Homo sapiens: one gene and its partner. The protein of the gene in region 2 interacts with the protein of the main gene of each other region in a biochemical or structural test. Each region holds a gene or a part of one and is shown on either strand. Other genes may lie near its edges.

What was found.
Region 1: the proteins of NAP1L1 (region 2) and ERCC6 form a complex in vitro, tested with the Homo sapiens proteins (one large-scale study listed by BioGRID).

What each region holds. Positions count from the first base shown.
Region 1 is NC_000010.11:49,466,053-49,469,880, reverse strand, and holds part of ERCC6 (DNA excision repair protein ERCC-6), read left to right. Parts: intron 1-3,828. UniProt on the Homo sapiens protein: Involved in repair of DNA damage following UV irradiation, acting either in the absence of ERCC6 or synergistically with ERCC6. Involved in the regulation of gene expression.
Region 2 is NC_000012.12:76,077,888-76,081,715, reverse strand, and holds part of NAP1L1 (nucleosome assembly protein 1-like 1), read left to right. Parts: intron 1-3,828. UniProt on the Homo sapiens protein: Histone chaperone that plays a role in the nuclear import of H2A-H2B and nucleosome assembly.

The DNA of each region.
Region 1 (3,828 bases), on a different chromosome or scaffold from region 2:
CTATATGCTACATTAATCTGATTTTCCAACCACAGGAGATTAAAGTAACATCATAAGGGAGAGGGACAAGCGTGTGGCTAGAGACAGACATTCTAGAAGTATGAAAGCTGATAGCTTATGTCAAGGGAGAAAAGTTAGGAGATGTAGACTCAACAATTGCTCAAGACCATGGAGTATATAGATAGCCCTGCTTAGTGATCCCTTAGCAGTCACTGTGTTCACAATGTGATGGCCTTGAGTTACCAAAGATTGCTGCTTATGGTACTCAGTTTAAGAAGGCAGGTTTATGTGTAGCATTTCAGAAAGACTTTTATTTAGCATGGTTAATTTTTTTGTTAATTTCATATTTTGAAGTAATTTCAAACTTAAATCAGTTGGGTCTCAAAAAAAAATCAGTTGGAATAATACGAAGAACTCTCCTATATCCTTTATCTAAGTTATTAACATTTTTCAGCTTTTGCTTTATCATTCACACACACACCCATCTATGCATACATTTTTTTTTTGGTAGGAATGCCACAGAGGTGATACCGTATCTTACTCAGTGCATCTATCAGGAGACACATGCTGGTTTGACCTATTACAAGTTGATTTTTAAGATCACTTGGTTAAGGTGGAGTCTGCCAGGTTTCTCAATGCTAAGGTTAATATTTTTACCTTTGTAATTAATTTGTGCTTTCAAGGAATATGCTTTGAGACTGTGTAAATATCCTGTTTCTCATCAAACTTTTATCCACTAGTTTTAATATCTATTGATGATTCTTTCCTCAGTCAGTTATTACTACAATGGTTGCCAAATGGTGATTAACATTCTATTGTAAGGAAGGTTTTCCTTCTCTCTTATTTATTTATTAATTTATTTTTAGATCAGTGTGGACTAATGGATTCTTTTTTTTTCCATGACTGTAATCCATTAGTAGGGGTATTATGATGCTCGTATTGTCTTAGATTTGCCTCATGGGTGGGAGCTCCTTCAAGCTGGCTCCTTTGTCCCTCTGGTATGTCCCCACCATTCTTTGAGCACCTCCTTTCTTCTTGGCATACTAATATATGCTGAGCTCAATTTGTATTCTGTGCCAGCCCTGGAATCAGCCATTTCTTCAAGGAACCCTGGAGAATGGTATTTAGGAACTAGGATCCGGGTTCTCAGAGTGTTCATTGCTGCTATTATGTCATTGCTTTCGTAGCCAATAGTATCAGGAAATAGATGTATGTATGTGTGTGTATGTGTTTGTTGTGTACATACATATACACATACATACGTGCATATATATGCACAACAAATTGCACAGATACACCTGTCTCTATGTCTGTGAAAACCATGAATTTGGCTTCCAGCAAAGGCAGATTAACATTTACCCTTCCATGTGAAACAATGAAAACAATGACAAAACATATGAAGCAATGGTTTTCAGACACCAAAGGGCAGTGATCTCTTGAGAGATGGGAAACAAATGAACTGAGCTCTCCAGTTGCCCTGCCCTACTGCCTTGAGAGAATTTTCGTGCTGTAACAGAAAGAGGGAGAACCCAGATGGGAGTCCAGGCAGACCCTCTGTTGAAAAGGCAGAGCTGAGCATCAGGGGAGGCCAGGGTGGCTGGCATTCACATGCAAGAGACGATAGCGGAGACAGCTCTGCACAGGGAGAGAACCCCACAGGTCTGCAGAGTCTCCACTGGCACTCAGCTGAATACTGACCAGCACATTGTGCAAGAAAACTACTTAAGGTCAGTGAAAAGGCCTTTCCTCTTTAACTTTTCGAATTAGAGGAAACATGTCTGGTGCTCACCCATGGCCAGGGATAGTGCCTGTTCCCACCAGCTAAGACTGGAAAAATATTTCATGGGGCATTGGGTATGATACAGAGTAGGGGGTCTTGCCTCTGTAGTAGGGAATGATCAGCCTTAGAGTGAGCACTGCTTCAGCCCTACCTGAGTGTTTACAGGAATATACAAATACCCAACATCCAACAAGATGAAATTCACAATGTCTGGAACCCAATAAAAAATTACTGGCTGGGTGTGGTGGCTCAGCCTGTAATCCCAGTGCTTTGAGAGGCTGAGGTGGGTTGATTGCTTGAGCCTAGGAGTTCAAAACCAGCCTGGGCAACATAGTGAGATCCTATCTCTACAAAAAATAAAAAAAAAAATAGCCGGGTGTGGTAGCATACACCTGTGGTCCCAGCTACTTGCGAGGCTGAGCTGGGAGGATTGCTCGAGCCTGGGAGGTTGAGGCTGTGGTGAGCTGTGATCATGCCACTGCACTCCAGCCTGGGCAGCAGAGCGAGACCCCATGTCAAAAAATAATAAAATGTATAACCCAATTTTTTAAATGGACAAATAATTTGAACAGACTTCACCAAGAAAGATATGTAGATGGCAAATAAATATATGAAACTTGTTAATATTATTAGTTATTAGGGAAATGCCAATTAGAACCATAACGAGATACCACTATACACCCTCTAGAATGGCTAAAATGAAAGAAGACTGACCATACTAAGTGTTGGTAAAGATGTGAAGCAGTTGGGTCTCATACACGCCTGGTGGGAATGTAAAATGGCACAATCACTTTGGAAAACAGTTTGGCAGTTGCATGCGCTTTCCTTGTGATATAGCTTTTTCAGTCCTGGGTGTGTATTTGCCCAAGAGAAATGGAAAAATATGTCCATACGAAGGCTTGTACATGAATATTCGTAGCAGCTTTATTAGTAATAGCCAAAAATGTAGAAATCAAATGTCTACCAACAAGTAAATAGTTAAACTAACCATGGCATATCCATATGATCAAATACTAGTCGACAGGTGGGGCTTGGCTCACGCCTGTAATCCCAGCACTTTGGGAGGCCGAGGTGGGTGAATCACCTGAGGTCAGGAGTTCGAGACCAACCTGGACAACATGGTGAAACTCCATCTCTACAAAAATACAAAAATTAGGCATGATGGTGGGTGTCTGGAATCCCAGCTACTTGGGAAGCTGAGCGGGAGAATCGCTTGAACCTGGGAAGTGGAGGTTGCAGTGAGCCGAGATCACACCATTGTACTCCTGCCTGTGCGACAGAGCAAGACTCCGTCTCAAAAAATATATATACTAATCAACAATAAAAGGAAGTAGAGTATTGATACATGCTACAGCATGGATGACTTTCGGACTAGTAAGATTAGTACATACTCTGATGCCGTTTGCATAAAATTCTAGAAAACACACAGTCATGACAGAAATTGGATTGGTTGTCTGGGCATGGGGTATTTGACGGTGGGATTACAAAGGGACATGAGTTTTGCAGGTGACGGCTATGTTCATTGTCTTGATTGTAGTGATAGTTTCATGGTATGTACATAATGTCACAACTTACCAAATACTGTACTTTAGCAGTTATTGCATATCAGTTACACTCTAATAAGCTCCAAAAAGCAAAATAAGATGAGGGAATACTGTTGTCTCCAATTTCATTTCAGCACCCTAGGGCCCTTTCCATGTTTGTAGCTTCCTTCTTCAAGACCTTCATTCACAACGTACTGAGTTACTTGTCAATCCTAGGATACATGGTAGCTTTTTACAATTTCTGACCTGAACTATGGCAAGAAACAGTTATACTAACTAGAATTCAATATTTGTTTTTATTTATACTAACTAAAGTTCAATATTTGTTTTTATTTCTTTTTGTCTTTAGTCTAAGTTTTTGGTCAAAACACTACTTGAGTCAAAAATAACTTAGTTCTTTTTTCTCACCCTTCATCATATTTTCAGTGTGTGCTATCAGTTTAAAATACAGTTAGGTTAATTTATTTGTTTGTATTCCACTTTAGGGTTTCCTCCCATCCTTGT
Region 2 (3,828 bases):
GGGCTTGCCATAGAAAATGGCTTCTATACCTTTGGTTACCAACTCTGCCTTTTACTTCCTGCATATTTGTATATATTTTTACTTATTCAGAAGTTTTGTACATTTTAATTTTTATTGGGAAACAGGGTTATATATATTTTTTCCTTGTGGAGACAGGCTCTTGCTGTGTTGCCCTGGCTGGTCTTAAATGCCTCACCTCAAGCGATTTTGCCTTGGCCTCCCAAAGTGCTGAGTGTATGGGTGTGAGCCACCACACCTGTCTAGAGTTATAATTTCAGTCTTGGAATTATTTTCTAAAGAGGGTACAGAAGAGCATAACAGGGATAAATAATGTAATAGGCAACACTGATTGATTATTCAGGCATTGTTTTAAATTCTGTGTGTATTATTAGCTCATTTAATTTACTTAGAGACAGGTAGCATCAACATTTTAACAAGGAAAAAAAATAGGTGTGGAGTGGTTAGATAACCCGTCCGTGGTTACGTACGTGAGCAGTGATAACTTATGATGAGATAATTTTTATCCTGGTTTTGAAAGAATGTTGACTTACACTGTTCTGCTATAAATCAGCATGAATATTAGTTCATTTTCTGTTGCTTAGAATACCTGAAACTGAGTAATTTATTTAAAAAAAAAGAATTTATTTCTTGCAGTTATAGAGGCTGAGAAATCCAAGATCGAGGGGACCCATGTGGTGAGAACCTTACTTGTGGAGACTCTGAAGGTTCCCAAGGCAGTACAGGGTATCACATGGGGAGGGGGCTGAGTGTGCTAACTGGGTAGCTTGGCTCTCCAGCTCCCCTGGTGGGAAACTGGGTAATTTATAAAGAAATACATTAATCCATGAATGGATTAATTCGTTTGTGAGGGTGGAGCCCTCATGATCCAATCACTTCTTAAAGACCCCCATCTCTCAGTGCTGCCACATAGGGGATTAAATTTCAACTTGAGTTTTAGAGGGGACAAATACTCAAACCATAGCAGCATGAAATTCAAAAGCACTCCACCTTGTATCCCACTGTGCTCTAGGGAAAAGCTGTATAGCAGTTATGGTCATGAAGTCTTCTTCCAGCATAGAATTTGTTTACATACACAGTCATGCATGGTTAATGATGGGGATGTGTTCTGGGGGAAATGCATCATTAAGCCATTTCATCCTTTTGTGAATGTCATAGAATGTATTTACACAAACCTAGATGGTACGGCCTAGTACATACCTGGGTTATATGGTATAGCCTGTTTGTTGTTCCTAGGCTACAAACCTGTATAGCATGTTGCTATGTTGAATACTGTAGGCAGTTTTAACTTTTTTAAAAATAAGTTGGAGTGTACTCTAACCACAAAAAGCATAGTATAGTAAATACATAAACCAATAAATCATTTATTGTCCTTATCAAGTATTATGTACTGTAAATAATTGTAAGTGCCATACTTTTATATGACTCTGCAGTAGGTTTGTTTATACCAGCATCACCACAAACATGAATAATGAATTGAGCTGTGACATTACTAGGCAATAGGAATGTTTCAGCTCCATTATAATCTTGTGGGATCACTGTTGTATATGCAGTCCTGTGTTGACTGAAACGTTATGTGACTGCAGTTGGGTAATGGTTTCTTAGCCTTATGTCAGCTCTATGTATCCAATTAGTTCAGTCAGTTGCCTCCCCTCTTCAGTGGAAGATTTTGTTTTTAGTTCAGTTTAGGAAGGAAGATTTCCTTTCAGGAGGCCAGGTGTGGTGGCTCACACCTGTAATCAATCACAGCACTTTGTGAGGCCAAGGCGGGAGCCCAGAATTTCCAGACCAGTCTAGGCGACATAGTGAGACACCCTGTCTTTACAAAAAAAATTAAAACAATATAGCTGAGTGTGGTGGAGAATGCATACCTGTAGTCCCAGCTACTCAGGAGGCTGAGGTGAGAGGATCACTTGAGCCTGTGAGGTCAAGGCTGCAGTGAGCTGTGATCACGCCACTGCACTATAGCCTGGGCAATAGAGCAAAGCCTTGTCTCCAAAAAAAAAAAAAAAATGCCTTCAAGCATGTTTTTAGGGTCAGTTATGTCTTTTGAGATCTTATACACACCATATATGTATGAACCTTTTATTATAAAGTGACCTTTTTATCTTAATGTTTTTCCTTGAAGTCTATTTTTTCCTGACATTAATACGTGATACCAACTCTGATTAGTGTTTTATTCTGAAACTGTCTTTTACATTACAGATTTTTTTTTAAGGAGGTATGTTGAAGTGCAGTGGCACGATCATAGCTCACTGTAACCTCAAACTCCTGGGTTCAAGTGATCTTCCTGCCTCAGTCTCCCGAGTAGCTAGGACTACAGCAGGCATGTTAATTTTTTGTAGAGATGATCTGTGTTGCCCAGGCTGGCCTTGAACTCCTGGCCTCAAGCGATCCTCCTGCCCCAGCCTTCCAAAGTGCTGAGACTATAGACGTGAGCTACCGCACATGGCCTCACCTTCATTCTTAAAAGATGTTTTGGTTGGGGATAGTATTTTAAGAGCCTTAGTTATTTTCAACATATTGAGGATTCTGTTGTCTTTTAGTGTCTTATTGAAGAGAAGACAGCTGTCAGTCTTTTTGTGCCTTTGAAGTTAATCTACCTTTTTTGTGTGTGCTTTTGAGATGAATTTGTTTTTGCTATCTTGCCTTTTTACTGATGTATCCGGAGCTGGATAAATATATGTGTGTGTGTGTGTGTGTATATATATATATGGATTCTTTATTTTATGGTTTTGATTTGTAGGGCTACTTGAATCTGTGGATTGGTGTCTTTCATCACTTAAGGAAATGGAAAATTATTGCGTATTAACTTCTTCAAATATTCTGTCCTCCTGCTCCCAGAACTTGTATGAAGTCTTTATTAGGCTTCATTGGATCTTAACATGTCTTTTCATTTCAGTATTTTCAGTCCTTTAGATTCTGTGGCTCTGCCATATTTTCAAAGTTTTCTTCTAGGCTTCATTTCAGCTCACTTAATTCTCTCTTCAGCTGTGTATCTTACTCTTAAGCCAGCCCATTTAGTTTGATTCATTAGTTTTATTTCTAGAAGTTCTAGTTTTCCAAATTTTGTTATATCACCTTTAATAGATGACTTCCTTGCAGACAGTGTGTTTTCAAACTTAGATCAAAGACAACCAGGCTTACTATGTCTGTAGGTATGTATTTGTTTATAGTCTGACAATTTTTAAGTCTTTGTGTAGGATTGATTTCTGTTATATTTTCTGTTTTTCCTGTTGGCTGTGAAAATTACTTGTATGAATTTTTTAAGGTCTAGAAGGAAGCTTTCATTTAATTTTGATATACAGGTGTCTGAATATACCAGGGACAGATCATTTTAAGTACATAGCTTGGGGTTTGGAGGGCAATACAGATGAGGTAAATTTGGGCTGTTTGTCCAGGAGAATGAATTTATTCTTGAGGATATAGCATTTTGGGGTTCCTGCTTAATTTGGGAGGGTTACCATAAAGATAGCCACCGTGGACAGGCCCAGAATTTTAACTTTGGTTAAAACCAAAGTTCACGTTGCTGATAATTGGCAGTTGACCTCAGTGCAAAAGTGCCTTCCTTCTGCTCCTGTTTTGCCCTCAGTTTTGGGCTGGTGATTCCTTACTATCTTGTTAGCATTTCAGTGCTTTTAAGATTTTTAACAAAATGTTTTTGTTAAAAAACATCTGTACTTTTAATTCTTTTCCTTTTTTTTTTTTTTTTTTTTTGAGACAGGGTCTTGCTCTTACCCAAGCTGGAGTGCAGCGGTGTGATCTCGGCTCACTGCAGCCTCCTCCTCTGGGTTCAAGCAATTCTCCTGC